3 separate regions of the Homo sapiens genome follow, and all the other regions are reported to be linked to region 1. Evidence: microRNA targets listed by miRTarBase, many of them from high-throughput screens and not tested one by one. Region 1 holds a microRNA gene; each other region holds the end of a gene's coding sequence.
Evidence for each region. The annotated mature microRNA hsa-miR-6780a-5p reads UUGGGAGGGAAGACAGCUGGAGA and lies in region 1 at 2,959-2,981, shown strand. An mRNA with a match to its seed (bases 2 to 7 or 8) in the 3' UTR can be bound and repressed. Matches are read on the target gene's strand: a 7mer-m8 pairs with bases 2 to 8, a 7mer-A1 pairs with bases 2 to 7 and ends in A, and an 8mer does both.

Region 2: the mRNA of TANGO2 is a reported target of hsa-miR-6780a-5p. Seed matches in the 3' UTR shown: 8mer at 4,021-4,028 and 8mer at 3,856-3,863.
Region 3: the mRNA of TMEM91 is a reported target of hsa-miR-6780a-5p. The part of its 3' UTR that is shown has no 7-base or 8-base seed match.

What each region holds. Positions count from the first base shown.
Region 1 is chr17:42,705,891-42,711,104 of GRCh38, reverse strand. MIR6780A (microRNA 6780a) reads left to right here and starts at 2,954; the gene lies at 2,954-3,021. It overlaps EZH1 (enhancer of zeste 1 polycomb repressive complex 2 subunit), which reads left to right. Exons shown (of 21, transcript NM_001991.5): 13 at 1,168-1,259; 14 at 2,189-2,229; 15 at 3,022-3,147; 16 at 4,920-5,098.
Region 2 is chr22:20,064,255-20,069,456 of GRCh38, reverse strand. It overlaps TANGO2 (transport and golgi organization 2 homolog), which reads right to left. Exons shown (of 9, transcript NM_152906.7): 9 at 2,293-4,915. The coding sequence ends at 4,795. Among named protein-coding and RNA genes, the nearest start is that of DGCR8, 13 kb to the left of the region's middle. RefSeq lists an enhancer at 2,849-3,349.
Region 3 is chr19:41,383,024-41,388,171 of GRCh38, forward strand. TMEM91 (transmembrane protein 91) reads left to right here. Exons shown (of 4, transcript NM_001098821.2): 4 at 692-1,060. The coding sequence ends at 850. EXOSC5 (exosome component 5) reads right to left here. Exons shown (of 6, transcript NM_020158.4): 5 at 4,491-4,580; 6 at 3,351-3,702. The coding sequence ends at 3,610. Among named protein-coding and RNA genes, the nearest start is that of TMEM91, 9.1 kb to the left of the region's middle. RefSeq lists an enhancer at 907-1,406 and a silencer at 3,326-3,504.

The sequences.
Region 1 (5,214 bases):
GAAAAGACAGGAAAAGACCACAGTGAGAAGACAGACTGAAGAACAGGGACAAGGAGGCAGCTGTCAGGGCCAGCATGTCCAACAGGAAAGGAACCCCAATGCTTTGGCTTCCTACCTTCTGGAGGAGACTCTGTGGCCTCTTCTTCATGCTTCCTGTACTGAGAACAATTAATAGAACCATGGACTGGGCAAGGTGGCTCACACCTAGAATTCCAGTGCTTTGGGAAGCCATGGTGGGAGGATCGCTTGAAGCCAGGATTTCAGGACCAGTGTGGGCAACAAAGTGAGACCCCATTTCTACAAAAAAAAAAAAAAAAAAAAAGCCACGTACCTGTAGTCCTAGTACTCAGGAGGCTGAGGTGGGAAGATGGCTTGAGCCCAGGAGTTCTATACTACATTGAGCTATGATGGCACCACTGCACTCCAGCCTGGCCAAGAGTATGAGACCCTCTCTCTTAAAAAAAAAAAAAAAAAACAAACAAAAACAGAACCATGAGCTGAAGTGCCCTTTGCTTTCATTTTGGAGCTCATACCTATTTCCCTGATCACAGGTTCTCAACGTAACCATCTATGGATTTGTATGCAAGAATGTTCTTGTCTGTATTTTCCTGAGAATAGTTACAGTTTTCAAAGATCCCCCACAAAGGGCCAATAGCCCCAACAAAGAAAAGGAAAAACTAAAAACCAGTGCTTTAAGAGAAAAAACACATCCTATTGAAATGGCTGAGGCTCCGGTATCTTTATACTGACAGAGGGAGCTAATATTTAGCCCACTGAAACCATTCCTGTCCTGTCCTGTCCTGCCTTACACTCAGTTACACAAGGCACAGCGTTGCCCTTCCTAAAAAGAAGAAGATACTGTTGGTCACAGTCAGCCCACTCTTCTACCCGTGGCTTGGTAGAAAGAGTAGTAGGTGACAGCTTCTGACCAGGGGCGGTATTACTGTGCTCAGTATTTCTCCTTTCCTGAGTCAGGATAAATAATTAGGAATGAACTTCAGAGCCAGTAACCCAATGTTCCAGTGGCACTCTGTCTCTCCCTGACTGATGAGAGGCTTGGTCAGCTGCCTGAGTTTCTCAGAACCCTCCCAAGGCCAGCACCCAGCTGGGCCACTTACCTGACCCCCTTGCTCGAGGAGTGACAGGCCCGTTGGATTTCTCTTCCAGGTCTTTCAGTTTGCAGTCAAAGAATCACTTATCCTGAAGCTGCCAACAGATGAGCTCATGAACCCCTCACAGAAGAAGAAAAGAAAGCACAGGCAAGAAGGGTTGGACAAAGTGTTTTGTTTTACAGCCAGGCTGTTCCCTGTGCTCTGACCTCCCCTTGGAGTTCCCATCTGCCTCCCTCTTTAGCAACCGCACAGGCTGTGTGAGCCCATCAGCTTGGCATCACATGACTGAGAGCCAGCCTCCTGAGTGCTCCCTGAGGGTCTGTGCCTTAGATCAGCCCTCTTCTTGTCCCCCAGTGCTGTGGACCATAACTGTCTGTTTTTCTATTTAAGCTTCTGGCCAATAGGACATGAGCTGGCCTCATGGCTCCACCCTGAAGCCATTTCTCCTTGTTGGTTTTGTTACCACCTTACCCATTTCTCAACTCTGATCAGAGTTTATTTATTTGTTTGGTTTGTGTTGTTTTTCTGAGTTACATGATAGCCTTTACTTAGGTTGGAAGTTTTTAAAAAAATTCTGCACCCTGGCCCTGTTCCCTAGTGACTATCACCTATCAGAGGAAGGAGCTGACACCACTTCTAGATACAGAAGGAAATCCCTGTGGCTCCTCCCTTTCAGTTCTTTCAGAGAAGATTCCTGAAAGGCCTTCCCACCTCCCCATCTTGAAACTCCCCCATATCTCCACCTCCACAAAGACAAAGGGAGAGATTTGGAGAGAAACAATAGCTTTATAATAGACCAATAGGCTTGGGCTTTCTTTTATTTCTGTGTTGTGTTCTTTTATGTTATTTGCTTGTTTGGGAGGGGTTGTGTTTAAGTTTAACTCTTGTAGCACAGGCCAGCTGGATTTAGGATGGACTCTAGCTTCTGTGTACCAAAGTCGTCCTGTTGAGGGGTTTGGGAAGATACTCCCCAGTCATCAAACACAGTCCCTCAGAGCAAGTCACGTTGTCATTTACCTGCATTTGCAGAGCTCCCTAGGGCCGTGACTGAGACCTGTCCTTCCTGTCTTTTTCAGATTGTGGGCTGCACACTGCAGGAAGATTCAGCTGAAGAAAGGTAAGTTCTACCAGGGCATTCTTCAGCAGTTCAGCTGGAGGCCTCACTCTGTGGTCATCACCCTACCCCACCTCCAGCTGCACTTGTTGACCCTGTGCCACTTCCGCAGATTGCAGAATTCTCTGCAGCAACTGAGAACAGCTGAGCCTCTCACTGCAACTGAGAAGACCTCTTAGGAGGTAACATTAAGGGCCTTGTGGTCTGTGATTTTTCTTTTTTTTGAGATGGAGCCTCGCTCTGTCACCCAGGCTGGAGTGCAGTGGCACAATCTTGGCTCACTGCAACCTCCGCCTCCCGGGTTCAAGCAATTCTCCTGCCTCAGCTTCCCAAGTAGCTGGGATTACAGGCATGTACCACCATGCCTGGCTAATTTTTGTATTTTTAGTAGAGACGGGGTTTCACCATGTTGGCCAGGCTGGTCTCGAACTCCTGACCTCAAATGATCCACCTGCCTCGGCCTCGCAAAGTGCTGGGATTACAGGCGTGAGCCACTGTGCCTGGCCAGTATGTGACTTTTCTAGTGTGCCATTTGCTAGGTTCCAGACCTCATTTAATGTTTAGAATAGCTTCCCTGTTGTCCCAGACCATCTCCACACCCTCCCCACAAAGCAGATCACCCCACTGCAGCTTATGAACAACGGTCATCCCTGTCTTCTCACTTCAGGTGCTAAATGTGTGTCCAAGGAGATTGTTAGGACCAGCCTCCTCTGAATCAGGGCAGCTGGACACTTGGGAGGGAAGACAGCTGGAGAGTATGGTCACAGCAGCATCCTCCTCTGTTTTCTTTCCTAGATAACTCTTCCACACAAGTGTACAACTACCAACCCTGCGACCACCCAGACCGCCCCTGTGACAGCACCTGCCCCTGCATCATGACTCAGAATTTCTGTGAGAAGTTCTGCCAGTGCAACCCAGACTGTAAGTGTGCTACGTTTTCTGTATAGTCTACCAAAACAGTTGGCTCCAGTGTGCCCTAGGCTTGCCCCATTCCTGTGCCCTTTACTGCTTATGGCCTTCTGATATCCCCTTTGCTGTGTTTTAGGGATTCTACAAATGAAATAAGTGCATGAGATCTGGGAGAGTCGTTTCTGGAAAACGTTTAGGTTCATGATTCTAAAAGCAGCAATTACACAGAAATCAGATACTTTCCCAACTTTGTCTTCTAGGGGAGAATTAAGAAATGTGGGGGGCAGCAGGCGCAGTCACTCACGCCTGTAATCCCAGCACTTTGGGTAGGCGGATCACTTGAGGTCAGGAGTTCAAGACCAGCGTGGCCAACTTGGCGAAACCTCATCTCTACTAAAAATAAAAAAATTAGGCCAGGTGTGGTGGCTCACGCCTATAATCCCAGCACTTGGAAGGCCAAGTCGGGCAGATCACTTAAGGTCAGGACTCAAGACCAGCCTGGCCAACATGGTGAACCCCGTCTCTACTAAGAATACAAAAATTAGCCAGACATGGTGGTACATGCTTGTAGTCCCAGCTACTTGGGAGGCTGAGGCACAAGAACTGCTTGAACCCAGAGGGCAGAGGCTGCCAGTGAGCCAAGATTGTGCCACTGCACTCCAGCCTGGGCAACAGAGCAAGACTCTGTCTCAAAAAGAAAAGAAATGTGGGACTCTTTTTTTTTTTTTTAAGTTACAGCCCCAGTTTCCCTTTTCTGAATACTGTTTTAAAAAATTTTTTATTCAGATATTTTTTGTTTGTGATTCTGTGTATGTCTATTTTCATTTCATAGCTGGAGTTTTAATATCAGGTAGAAGACAGGGGCCTGGATGTCAGCAGAGACATCCGGGTACTTATCTTTTACTTCTTATCCCACCATGCCCTTCCCAACTCAAAGCTGAGCAGTTTGATGGCAGTCCCCACAGCTTGCAGAACTTGGTGCCCAGGCGGTTTTGCTGGAGGAAATACCTCCTAACCCATAGCAGATAGTGATCTTAGCCGCAGCAGAGAAGTGGTTGCGCTGGGTTGGGCAGTGGGTGGAGAAGGATGGCATAGAACGGATGCATTCTGTTCTCAAAATGATACTTGTTTTGATGGTGACAATTTACCAGTGAAACACACTGATTTCATATTCTCTGGGGTACTCTCCACCTCAGTGGGAGGGAGAGGATTGTTGGGGAATCTCTAGGGGACACTTCTTATTAGTATACCTGCTTTTTTTTTCATTTTTTAAATTTTTTTGAGACAGGATCTCAGCTCTGTTGCTCAGGCTGGAGAGAAGTGGCACAATTATGGCTCACTGCAGCCTCAACCTCCCTGGCTCAAGCCATTCATCCCCCTACATCCATCAAGCCTGGGACTACAGGCAGGTGTCACCACACATGGCTATTTTTTTTTTTAATTTTTTTGTGGAGACAGGATCTCCCTATGTTGCCCAGCCTGGTTTTGAACTCCTGGGCTCAGGTGATTCTCCTGCCTTGGCCTCCCAAAGTGCTAGGATTACAGGCATGAGCCACCATGCTTGACCACACCTGCTTTTTTGACTCGAAGGCATGAATGTTGGGAAGCACTCAGTTTTCTATGGACAAAACTTGTGTATTTGATTATTGGGAAGGGAGCTTCCTCTTATTTTGCCAAACATCCTTGAACACAAAAAATTTACTTCTTTGCTGTCCCTTGAGTCAACCACAAGCCCCAGTATTAGCTTATTTCCCTTCTAAGACTTACCTGTCTTCCCTTCCCAGGTCAGAATCGTTTCCCTGGCTGTCGCTGTAAGACCCAGTGCAATACCAAGCAATGTCCTTGCTATCTGGCAGTGCGAGAATGTGACCCTGACCTGTGTCTCACCTGTGGGGCCTCAGAGCACTGGGACTGCAAGGTGGTTTCCTGTAAAAACTGCAGCATCCAGCGTGGACTTAAGAAGGTGAGGCCTTTCCTCAGGACCCCACACCACATAAAATGGAGGGGGAAGGAAGGAACGGTCCCAAGCATTCTCTTTCCACTGGTTCTTTTGAGGCTTTATATGTGAAAGTGCTTGAT
Region 2 (5,202 bases), not on the chromosome of region 1:
CTCTGTTACCCAGGCTGGGGTGCAGTGGTACGATCTCAGCTCACTGCAACCTCCGCATCCCAGGTTCAAGCAATTCTCCTGCCTTAGCCTCCCGAATAGCTGGGATTACAGGCATCCGCCACCATGTCCAGCTAATTTTTGTATATTTAGTAGAGATGGGGTTTCACCATGCTGGTCAGGCTGGTCTCGAACTCAAGTGATCTGCCCACCTTGGCCTCTCAAAGTGCTGGGATTACAGGTGTGAGCCAAAGTGCCCAGCCTCCTTTTTAATTTCTTTTTTCTTTCTTTCAAGATGGGGGCTCGCTGTGTCGCACACGCTGGAGTGCAGTCGTGCAATCATGGCTTACTACAGCCTCAAACTCCTGGGCTCAAGCGACGCTCACACCTCAGCCTCCTAAGTAGCTGGGATTACAGGTGTGTGCCACCGTGCTGGGCTAAACTGAAACTTTAAATGAGTTGCCTGCCCGAGACTTCAGTAAAGACCTGCAGGAACTGGGGGAAGAGTGTGGTTTGGGTATCTGCAGGGGAACTGTGAGCACAAAGACCCTGGGGTGGGAGCTGTGCAGAGTGTGTAGCTGTGAGCTGAGGGTATGGGGGTAGGCCTGGGCAAGTAAGGTGAAGCGGGGAGCAGTGCCAGACATTGTGGGGACACCAGCATGGGAAGACCATGGATCTGTGGGGCAGGCACCCCCAGAGATGCCACCTTGTACTCATCCTATTCTGTCCTGGCCCATGGTTCTGCCTCTCCACCTGTCTCGGAACCGGGGGGCCGTTATGGTATCTCCCCAAGCCGCAGTTCCTTCATCTGTAAAGTGAAGATCACTACTGTGTTAGTCTGTTAGGGCCGCCTTAAAAAAGCACCACAGTCGGCCGGGAGCGGTGGCTCACGCCTGTAATCCCAGCACTTTGGGAGGCCGAGGCGGGCGGATCACAAGGTCAGGAGATCAAGACCATCCTGGCTAACACAGTGAAACCCCGTCTCTACTAAAAATACAAAAAATTAGCTGGACGTGGTGGCAGGTGCCTGTAGTCCCAGCTACTCAGGAGGCTGAGGCAGGAGAATTGCTTGAACCCGGGAGGTGGAGGTTGCAGTGAGCCAAGACTGTGCCACCATACTCCAGCCTGGGTGACAGAGTGAGACTCCGTCTCAAAAAAAAAAAAAAAAAAAAAAAGCACCACAGTCTGGGCTCAGTAGCTCACACCTGTAATCCCAGCACTATGGGAGGCCAAGGTGGGAGGATCATGTGAGCCCAGGAGTTTGGGACCAGTTCAGGCAACATGGTAAAACCCCGTCTCTACAAAAAATACAAAAAATTAGCTGGACGTGGTCGTATGCACCTGTAGTCCTATCTACTCAGGGGACTAGGTGGGAAGATTGCCTGACCTCAGGAGGTGGAGGCTGCAGTGAGCTGTGATCTTGCCACTGCACTCCAGTCTGGGCAATGGAGTGAGACCCTGTCTCCAAAAAAAAAAAAAAAAAAGCATCACAAATTGAACCACTTAAGATAACAGACATTTATTGTCACACAGCTCTGGATGCTGGAAGTCCATGATCAGAGTGACAGCAGGTCTGCTCCCTCTGAAGGCTCTAAGAGAGGCTCTGAAGCAGGCCCCTCTCCCAGCTTCTGGTGATGCCTTGGCTCGTGGAGCAGAATTCCAGTCTTTACACGGTGTTCTTCCTGTGCGCGTATCCGTCCGTGTCCAAATCTTTCTTTTTCCTTTTTTTTTTTTTTTAAGAGACAGGGTTTTTCTCCATCATCCAGGCTGAAGTGCAGTGGTGCAATCACGGCTCACTGCAGCCTCCACCTCCTGAGCTCAAGTGATCCTCCTACCTCAGCCTCCCAAGTAGCTGGGACTACAGGTGTGTACCACCATGCCCTGCTAATTTTTTAATTTTCATTTTTCTTTAGAGATGGGGTCTTGCTATGTTGCCCAGGCTAATCTGGGCTCAAGCAGTCCTCCAGCTTTGGCCTCCCAAAGGGCTGGGATTACAATGTGAGCCGCTGCGCCCAGCCCAAATCTTCCTTTTTTGTTTTTTTGAGACAGAGTCTCCCTCTGTTGCCCAGGCAGAGTGCAGTAGTGCAATCTTGGCTCACTGCAACCTCTGCCTCCTGGGTTCAAGCGATTCTCCCACCTCAGCCTCGCACTACAGGTGTGAGTCACAATGGCCAGCTAATTTTTGTATTTTTTTTTTTTTTTTTTGGTAGACACAGCGTTTCGACATGTTGCCCCAGGCTGGTCTTGAACTCCTGAGCTCAAGCAGTCCTCCTGCCTCAGCCTCCCAAGGTGCTGGGATTATAGGCATGAGCCACTGTATCCAGCCTAAATGTTCCTCTTTTTATAAGGATAGCCGTCATATTGGATTAGGGCCCACACTAACGACCTCATTCTACCTTGGTTACCCCTGGAAGAACCCTATCTCCAAATGCAGTCACATTCTGAGGTACTGTGGGTCAGGACACTGATATATCTCTTTGGGGACACAACTCATAACACCAATAGAATCACCATTGAGGGCTGTTCTTCCTTAGGGGCCTCAGGCTGCTGGGGAGCCCTGGGCAGGGTGGGGGCAGAGGGACCCACACAAGAGCAGAGACTGCTCTTCCTGGGCAGGCCGGGTCTCTGGGCAGAGGTGAACATCCGGGGGGCTCTTCATGAGGGCAGGGCACCATCCAGGTTGGGGACTGGCACTGGTCACCGGCACAGGACATGGTAGCCACTGGGGCAGGTGAATGTGTTGGCAGCAAGGGCAGTGCCCCCAGCCGGGAGCCTGTTGTCCTGACTCAGAGGACACGTATGGGATGTGGGGCCTCAGTTTCTCCTCAGGCCTGGGGGTGCAGCCTGGGTCGCAGCTGGGAAACTCTTCTGAGTTCAAAGTGAGCCATGGAAGGCTCTGAGCCCAGCAAAGTGGTCTGGGCAAGAAGGGGAAGAGACGGGGAGGCCCCTGCTCCTCCCTAGGTGGACTCACATCATGTCACAATCAGGCTGGGAAGCCCTGGCGCAGGTCCACACCCACCCTGCACTCTCATGGGTCTGAAAAGGCCAAGTTAGGGGTTGGGTGCAGAGGCTTAGAAAAGTCTAGGTCTCAGCATTGGATATCCGGGACCCCCTTATACTCGGCCAGGCTCAGGGATGAAGCTCCTTAGAGCTGGCCCCAAACCAGGAGCTCCTGGGGCTGAGACAGATGCAGACCTGCTCTCCTGCCCCTCCTACCATCCCCTGGCCCCCATCATCCAACAGAAGTCCAGGCCAGCCTGCCTCCCGCTCCAGTGGGGCCTCCATTGCGACCTGATAGACCTGTATGGGTGGCTGGCCCCATAATCAGCATCTACCACATCCCACGCGCATGGGGTCTCTCACAGCGGCCCCTGCCCATGGACAGATGGACTGACCCACAGGCATCCACATGTGGTGCTGAAGAAGCCGTGAGGAAAGGGGGAGGTGGGAAGGGCCTCGTCCAGGGTGTCTGGCTGCACAGGAGACATAGCAGCTCCCACTGGCACCCTGCATACAAGGGAAAGGCCTCGAAATGCGCTCACCAAAGCCTCAGAGTTTTATTATCAGGAGCTCACATTCAGGTACAGATTCCTATGAAGTTTGCCTCACCTGGAGGGAAGAGGGAGAGAGCAGGGCTGGCTGAGATGGGGCTGCCAGAGGCATGGTCTCCAGCTGGGTAAGCGGGATTCTGAGAGCCCCTGGTGCACACGGAGCCTCCTGGCACACACAGGATTGTCTCAAACACAGAGGACCTCTGGCACACTCAAGGGCACTGAATCTAGCAATGAGTCTGCACTTCTGTTATGAGAGTGGGTTTTTCGGCCAGGCGTGGTGGCTCACGCCTGTAATCCCAGCACTTTGGGAGGCCGAGGCAGGTGGATCACCACGTCAGGAGTTCAAGACCAGCCTGACCAACATGGTGAAACCCCGTCTCTACTAAAAACACAAAAATTAGCTGGGCATGGTGGCACACGCCTGTAATCCCAGCTAATCAGGAGGCTGGGGCAGGAGAATTGCTTGAACTTGGGAGGCGGAGGTTGCAGTGAGCCGAGATCGTGCCACTGCACTCCAGCCTGGGTGACAGAGCAAGACTCCGTCTCAAAAAAAAAAAAAAGAGAGAGTGGGTTTTTCTCAGGTCTTCTCGGTGCCCAATTCCAAATGTGGCTGTCTCCTCTGCAGGAGCAGGTCTGCTTGTCAAGAGTCCAAGCACGCCTGTGTTCTGTGGCCACAGGAGAGGAGGGGCCGCTTTTAAATACAAGCCTACTCCTGTCGTTGGACCAGAACAAAGACCTACTGGCCAGAAGCACATGAGAGGTGAGAGTCGCCCTTCTGCCTTGTTCGGCATCGTGTGTGTGCACCTGTGTGTGTGTGTCTGTGCAACTGTGCATGTGTGCACATGTGTAGCACACCTGTGCACGTACATGTGCCTGTGTCGGTGTCCATGTATATGGCTTGCATGTGTGTGCTTGTGCACACGCAGGAGTGTATGTGTGTGCCATGTGAGTGCCTGTGTACATGTGCAAGAGTGGGCTCAGGTGTATCCACATGTTCATGGTATACCTCGGCCGGTCCTAGACCTAGTATCAGACTCTGCTGCTCCTCACTGGCATAAAGGCAGACCCTGAACTGGGCATGGGGACACAGATGGGTAACACGCAAACCACAGGGCCCTGATCCGGGGGATGCTGGCCAAGCCACGGGCAGTGCAATGCAGTATGGCAAAGGAAGGTTTCCTGTCCACAGTGCCCCTCAAGGCAGGGCCCCCCAGGAGCCCACTGGCCAGGCCCAGAGGTGGGGTTAGCTCTGCAGTGTGAACTCATAGGTTCTGGTCTCCCAGTGGGAGAGGTCCTTGTCCATCATGCTACGCTCAGTGAAGGTCACGTGGCCGTCCGCATCTACCAGGATGATAGTGTTGGTTCTGAAAGAGAGCAGGGGCCCTCGTTCACCTGGTGTCCCTCAGCCCTGCCCTGCCTGTCACAGCCACAAATAGGGCAAGAATGCAGGCAGGTAGAGTTAGGAACCCCATGCCTGGAGGCTGTGCCAAGTCACAGAGAGCAGCAGCCTCAGTCTTGGGGATGATGAGGGGCCATCAGTGGCGTGTGAGCTCTTGGCTGGCTCCACAGGCCCACACTTGCTGAGTCCTGCCACCTTCACTGGGAACCACCCCACCCTGCCCTGCTCTCCCCGTGTAGCATGAGCCAAGGC
Region 3 (5,148 bases), not on the chromosome of region 1:
CCAGAGAACCTGAACTCAAATCCTGAGTCTGCCACTCTCTGCAAGATTTTTTTTGAGTCTCACTTTGTCGCCCAGGCTGGAGTGCAGTGGTACAATCTCGGCTCACTGCAATCTCTGCCTCTTGGGTTCAAGTGATTCTCCTGCCCCAGCCTCCTGAGTAGCTGGGATTAGAGGCGCGCGCTACCATGCCTGGCTAATTTTTGAATTTTTAATAAAGACGGGGTTTCACCACGTTGGCCACGCTGGTCTCGAACTCCTGACCTCAAGTGATCCTCCCATCTTGGCCTCCCAAAGTGCTGGGATTACAGGCGTGAGCCACGGTGCCCAGCTCTCTGCAAGATTTTGGGCAAGTCACTTAACTTCCCTGTGCCTCACTTTCCTCATCTGTAAAGTGGGAATAATTGCTACCTCTGGGTCAATGTGAGAATCAAATGAGTTAGAATAGTGGCATATACCATTTTAATGTTTTTATTTATTTTTTAAAATTTATTATTATTATTATTTTTTACCATTTTAATGTTTTTATTAACCACTCAGCATCCCCAGTGCCTGACCTATAGTAGGTGCTACGTATCTGCTTTTGGAATACATGCATGAATGAATGAATGGGTATGTTGGGTGGGGGAGGGACCAGGGGAAGGGTCTGGGACTGAGGGGATGCCTGGGTCACTGCTGCCCACTGCCTCTACAGACCAACAAGGCTTGGGCCAAGGGGGACATCCAGGGGGCAGGGGCCGCCTCCCGCCGTGCCTTCCTGCTGGGGGTCCTCGCCGTCGGGCTGGGCGTGTGCACGTATGCGGCTGCCCTGGTGACCCTGGCTGCCTACCTTGCCTCCCGAGACCCGCCCTAGTTGCCCCTACAGCCCTCACTGTGAACCCTGAGGCCGGCAGCCCAGCAAATCTGTGGGCAGAGAGTGGAGAATCTTGGTGGATGAGGCTGCGGCGGCGGCAGGAGCATCTAGAAACGGGAGCGAGCTGGACTGGAACCCTTCCCCTTCCTGGCCACCGCTCTTCGGGCGGCAGCAACCTGAGATTAAACACCAGACACCCTTGCAGCCAAACCAGAGTCTGTTCGCGTGTGTGGGAGGATGGAAGGGGGTGGGGGTGCTTGAGACCAACAGGGGACTGACTGGTCAGGGTGACGGGCTGTGGTGGGCATCCCCAGGGTGCTTGCTCCCTGAGACCTGAGCTGGAAAAGGGGGAAGAGGATTTTCGGGTTTTTTTTGTTTTTTGAGAGATGGTCTCCCTGTTGCCCATGCTGGAGTGCTGTGGCACAATCATGGCTCACTGCAGCCTTGAACTCCTGGGCTCAAGCAATCATCCTGATTGAGCCCAGGAGCCTCCCAAGTAGCCGGGACTACGGGCACCTGCCACCACACCCAGCTAATTAAAAAAATTTTTTTGTAAAGACAAGGTATCACTATATTGCCCAGGCTGGTCTGAAACTCCTGGGCTCAACTGATCTTCCCGCCTCGGTCTCCCAAAGAGCTGAGATTACAGGCATGAGCGACCATGCCTGGTGGTTTCTAAACAGCAGGATGTTCTCATCCCAATATGGGTGGTTAGCAGAGAACTGGAGAGAGCTGAGTTTCAAGTCCTTACTCCTCTACCTGTTAGCTGTGTAAGCTTGGCCCAAGTGACTTCTCACTTTTTCTCCTCTGCAAAATGGGACTTTCTGCACACCTCAGGCTGTAGTGAGGATTAAATGCATCATATGTGGAAATGACTGTCTGCTGTTGCTGTCTCCCTCTGAGCTTTTTTTTCTTTTCTTTTCTTTTTTTTGAGATAGGATCTCCCTCTGTCAACCCAGACTGGAGTGCAGTGGCCCGATCTTGGTTCACTGCAGCCTCGACCTTCCAGGCTCAAGTGATCCTCCCACCTCAGCCTCCCAAGGAGCTGGGACCACAGGCGTGTGCCACAATGCCTGGCTAATTTTTTGTATTTTTTTTTTTTTTTTTGAGATGGAGTCTCGCTCTGTTGCCAGGCTGGAGTGCAATGGTGCAATCTCAACTCACTGCAGCCTCTGCCTTCCAGGTTCAAGAGATTCTCCTGCCTCAGCCTCCTGAGTAGCTGGGATTTCAGGTGCGCAGCACTGCGCCTGGCTGATTTTTGTATTTTTAGTAGAGACAGGTTTTCACCATGTTGGTCAGGTTGGTCTCGAACTCCTGACGTCAGGTGATCCACCCACCTCAGCCTCCCAAAGTGCTGGGATTACAGGCGTGAGCCACCAAGCCTGGTCTTTATTGCTTGATAATGTCTAGCCCCTCTTAGTGTGCTTAGTGAGCACTTCCTATGTGCCTCTGCTAAGTGCTTGTGACAGATGTGTTTTCCCTGTCCAGGTGCCAACACCTCCATGTTTCCTTAAGGATGCATCCCTTTCCCTATTGCAGGCCATTTGGTTTGGATGGGACTGCCTCCAACTGCAGGTAGGGTTTTGCCCCATCTCTACTAAAAATACAAAAATTAGGCTGGGCACAGTGGCTCAAGTCTGTAATTCCAGCACTTTGGGTGGCCAAGGCAGGCGAATCACCTGAGGTCAGGATTTCCAGACCAGCCTGGCCAACATGGTGAAACCGCATCTCTACTAAAAATACAACAATTAGGCCAGGTGCGGTGGCTCACGCCTGTAATCCCAGCACTTTGGGAGGCAGAGGTGGGCGGATCACCTGAGGTCAGGAGTTAAGAGACCAGCCTGACCAACATGGAGAAATCCCGTCTCTACTAAAAATACAAAAATTAGCTGGGTGTGGTGGCATGTGCCTGTAGTCCCAGCTACTCAGGAGGCTGAGGCAGGAGAATCATTGGAACCCAGGAGGCGGAGGTTGCATCACCCCATTGCACTCCAGCCTGGGCAACAGAGCGAGATTCCGTCTCAAAACAAAAGAAAACAAAACAAAACAAAACAAAACAAGACAGGGACTATAACAACAGCCCCATCTCACAGGGTTGGTGGGTGGGTATTTAGAGTTTCCTCCCCATGGCCTACAAGGCCCCACCTGCATGCTTGCCCGTTTCCCCCAGCCCCATCTGCTCTCCTGCTCTAGCTCGCTGGCTTTGGCCACCCTGTTCACCAAGCTGGTCCCCAGCCCCTGGGGGCTCCTTCCCCACATTATCCAAGAGCTCACTCCCTTTCCTCTTTCAGGGTCCCCTCTGAGGTACCCTGCTCTGTGAAGGCACTGATGCCTGATGTACTCAATTTGCCCTCCATAAAGGGACTCTCCCAAACTCCTGTTCCCTGCTTTTTACTTTTTCATAGATTTACTACCATCTGACAAATTCCAGTTTACCTCCCTGCTCCTCTGGGATCTCACTAGCAGGGCCTGCACACGATGGGTGCTCAACAGACATTTGTTAAAGTGAATTAATTTATTGATTCATCCATTCCATAAATGTGAGCTCCTTTGAATGTTATCCTTGCTGGGGGGATCTGTGCCCCCAGGCCTGGGGGCTGTCACAGGCCAAGGCCTCCCCACAGGAGCCCTGTGGTTACAGAGCTGCAGGCTCAAGGAGCCCATGGGTCAGAGAGGCAAGGCTGGGCTGCTGGTTTGCTTCAGGCTGTAGGGGGTGAGTGGGTGGAGGCAATGGGAGCGGCCCCTTGCCCCAGCTTGCCTCAGCTCTTGGAGTAACGCCTCTGCAGCGATTCCCGGTAGAAACGGAAGACGTGTTGCGAAGCGGCCTGGGCCGCAGCCAGGCACTGCTGGAGCTGCGGGGGAGAGACTGGTCGGTGCTGGGGGCCGAGCCCTTCATGCACACACGACTTGGCTGACCCAGGAGGTTCTGCTGACCCCACCTGACTCCCTTAACCTCCCATCACTCCCCTGCCCCCAAGTGAGGCAAGTGGTAAGGGATTATTTCCCATTTCATGAACTGTTTCTTAGAGATCAGGAGAAATAAAAAGAGGGAGAAGGACTTCAGGATCAGATTCTGACAGCAACAGGACTCAGACCTATCAGGCATCCTCACACCTTGGAGGAGGCCCCAGCTGTGCAGAGCTATGGAACTGGAGAGTGCACAGAATTGGAGTGGTCTTGGGATTTTACAGCCACAGTCCCCTTCAGCCCAAATAATCTAAGAGCCATGGAATCAAGAGACTCCCAGTCTTCACTGCCATGTATTCCTAGATTCATGAGGTCCAGGTTGGACATGCTTTTGCAGACAGTCATGTCCAAGAGTTTCCAGGCTCTGCCCCTTAGCCTGAGACCTGGAATTCCCATGGCTCACCACTCTGAGCTGGGAGCTGGGGGACCATCACATGCCCTCTTCTGACTTCAAACTGAGCTCATCCTCTTTTTGCCTGTGTTATAAATTGGGCTTCCCTTAAACATTTCCGCAAAGGTTTCTGGGTCCACAAAGTTTGAAAACTCCCTTTTTACAAGAAGAAATTTAAGAGGCTCTCCTGAAGCCTCTCAGAATCCAGGGCAGAGTTGGGACAAGACCGTATGTCAGTGGGAAGGAAGGTTCTGGCTTTTCCCCTCATCCCCATGCTGGTACCTCAGTGTCTGAGTAGAGCCCCTTGGTGCTGGACATCAGCAGCTTCCGTTCCACGCTGTCCAGGGCAAAGGTCAGGACTGCCCGGGCCTCCTAGGGACAAGGGGTAGAAGGCGGTGGGGGACCTAGGACCTTCCCCTCAGATAAAATCTCAGCCAGTCCTTTGGCCAGGCACAGTGGCTCATGACCATAATCTCACCACTTTGGGAGGCCAAGGCAGGGCACTGCTTGAGGCCAGAAACTCAAGACCAATCTGGGCAACAGAGGGAGACCCCATCTCAGAAAAAAAAAAAAAAAAAAGGTAGCTGGGTGTGGGGGTGCATGTCTGAGTTCCCAGCTACTCAGGAGGCAGAGGTGGGAGGACTGCTTGAGCCCAGGAGTTTGAAGCTGCAGTGAGCTGTGATCGTACTACACTCCAGCATGGGCGACAGTGAGACCCTGTCTCAACGCTCCCCTTCCCACCACACACTTGCAGCCAGTCCCACTGAGGGGACTCCGGACCCTTGGCCTCCAGGCCTCTCCCTTTCCATAGCCAGGCGCTCACCTATCAAGCATCAAGCGCAGCCATTTTTTGTCTACGCTACCCCTTCCCTACTTCCCTGGGTATAGCCCTCTGCCTTTCCTTTGTAGAACTGTACTCCATGCCCCTTATTCCAACCAC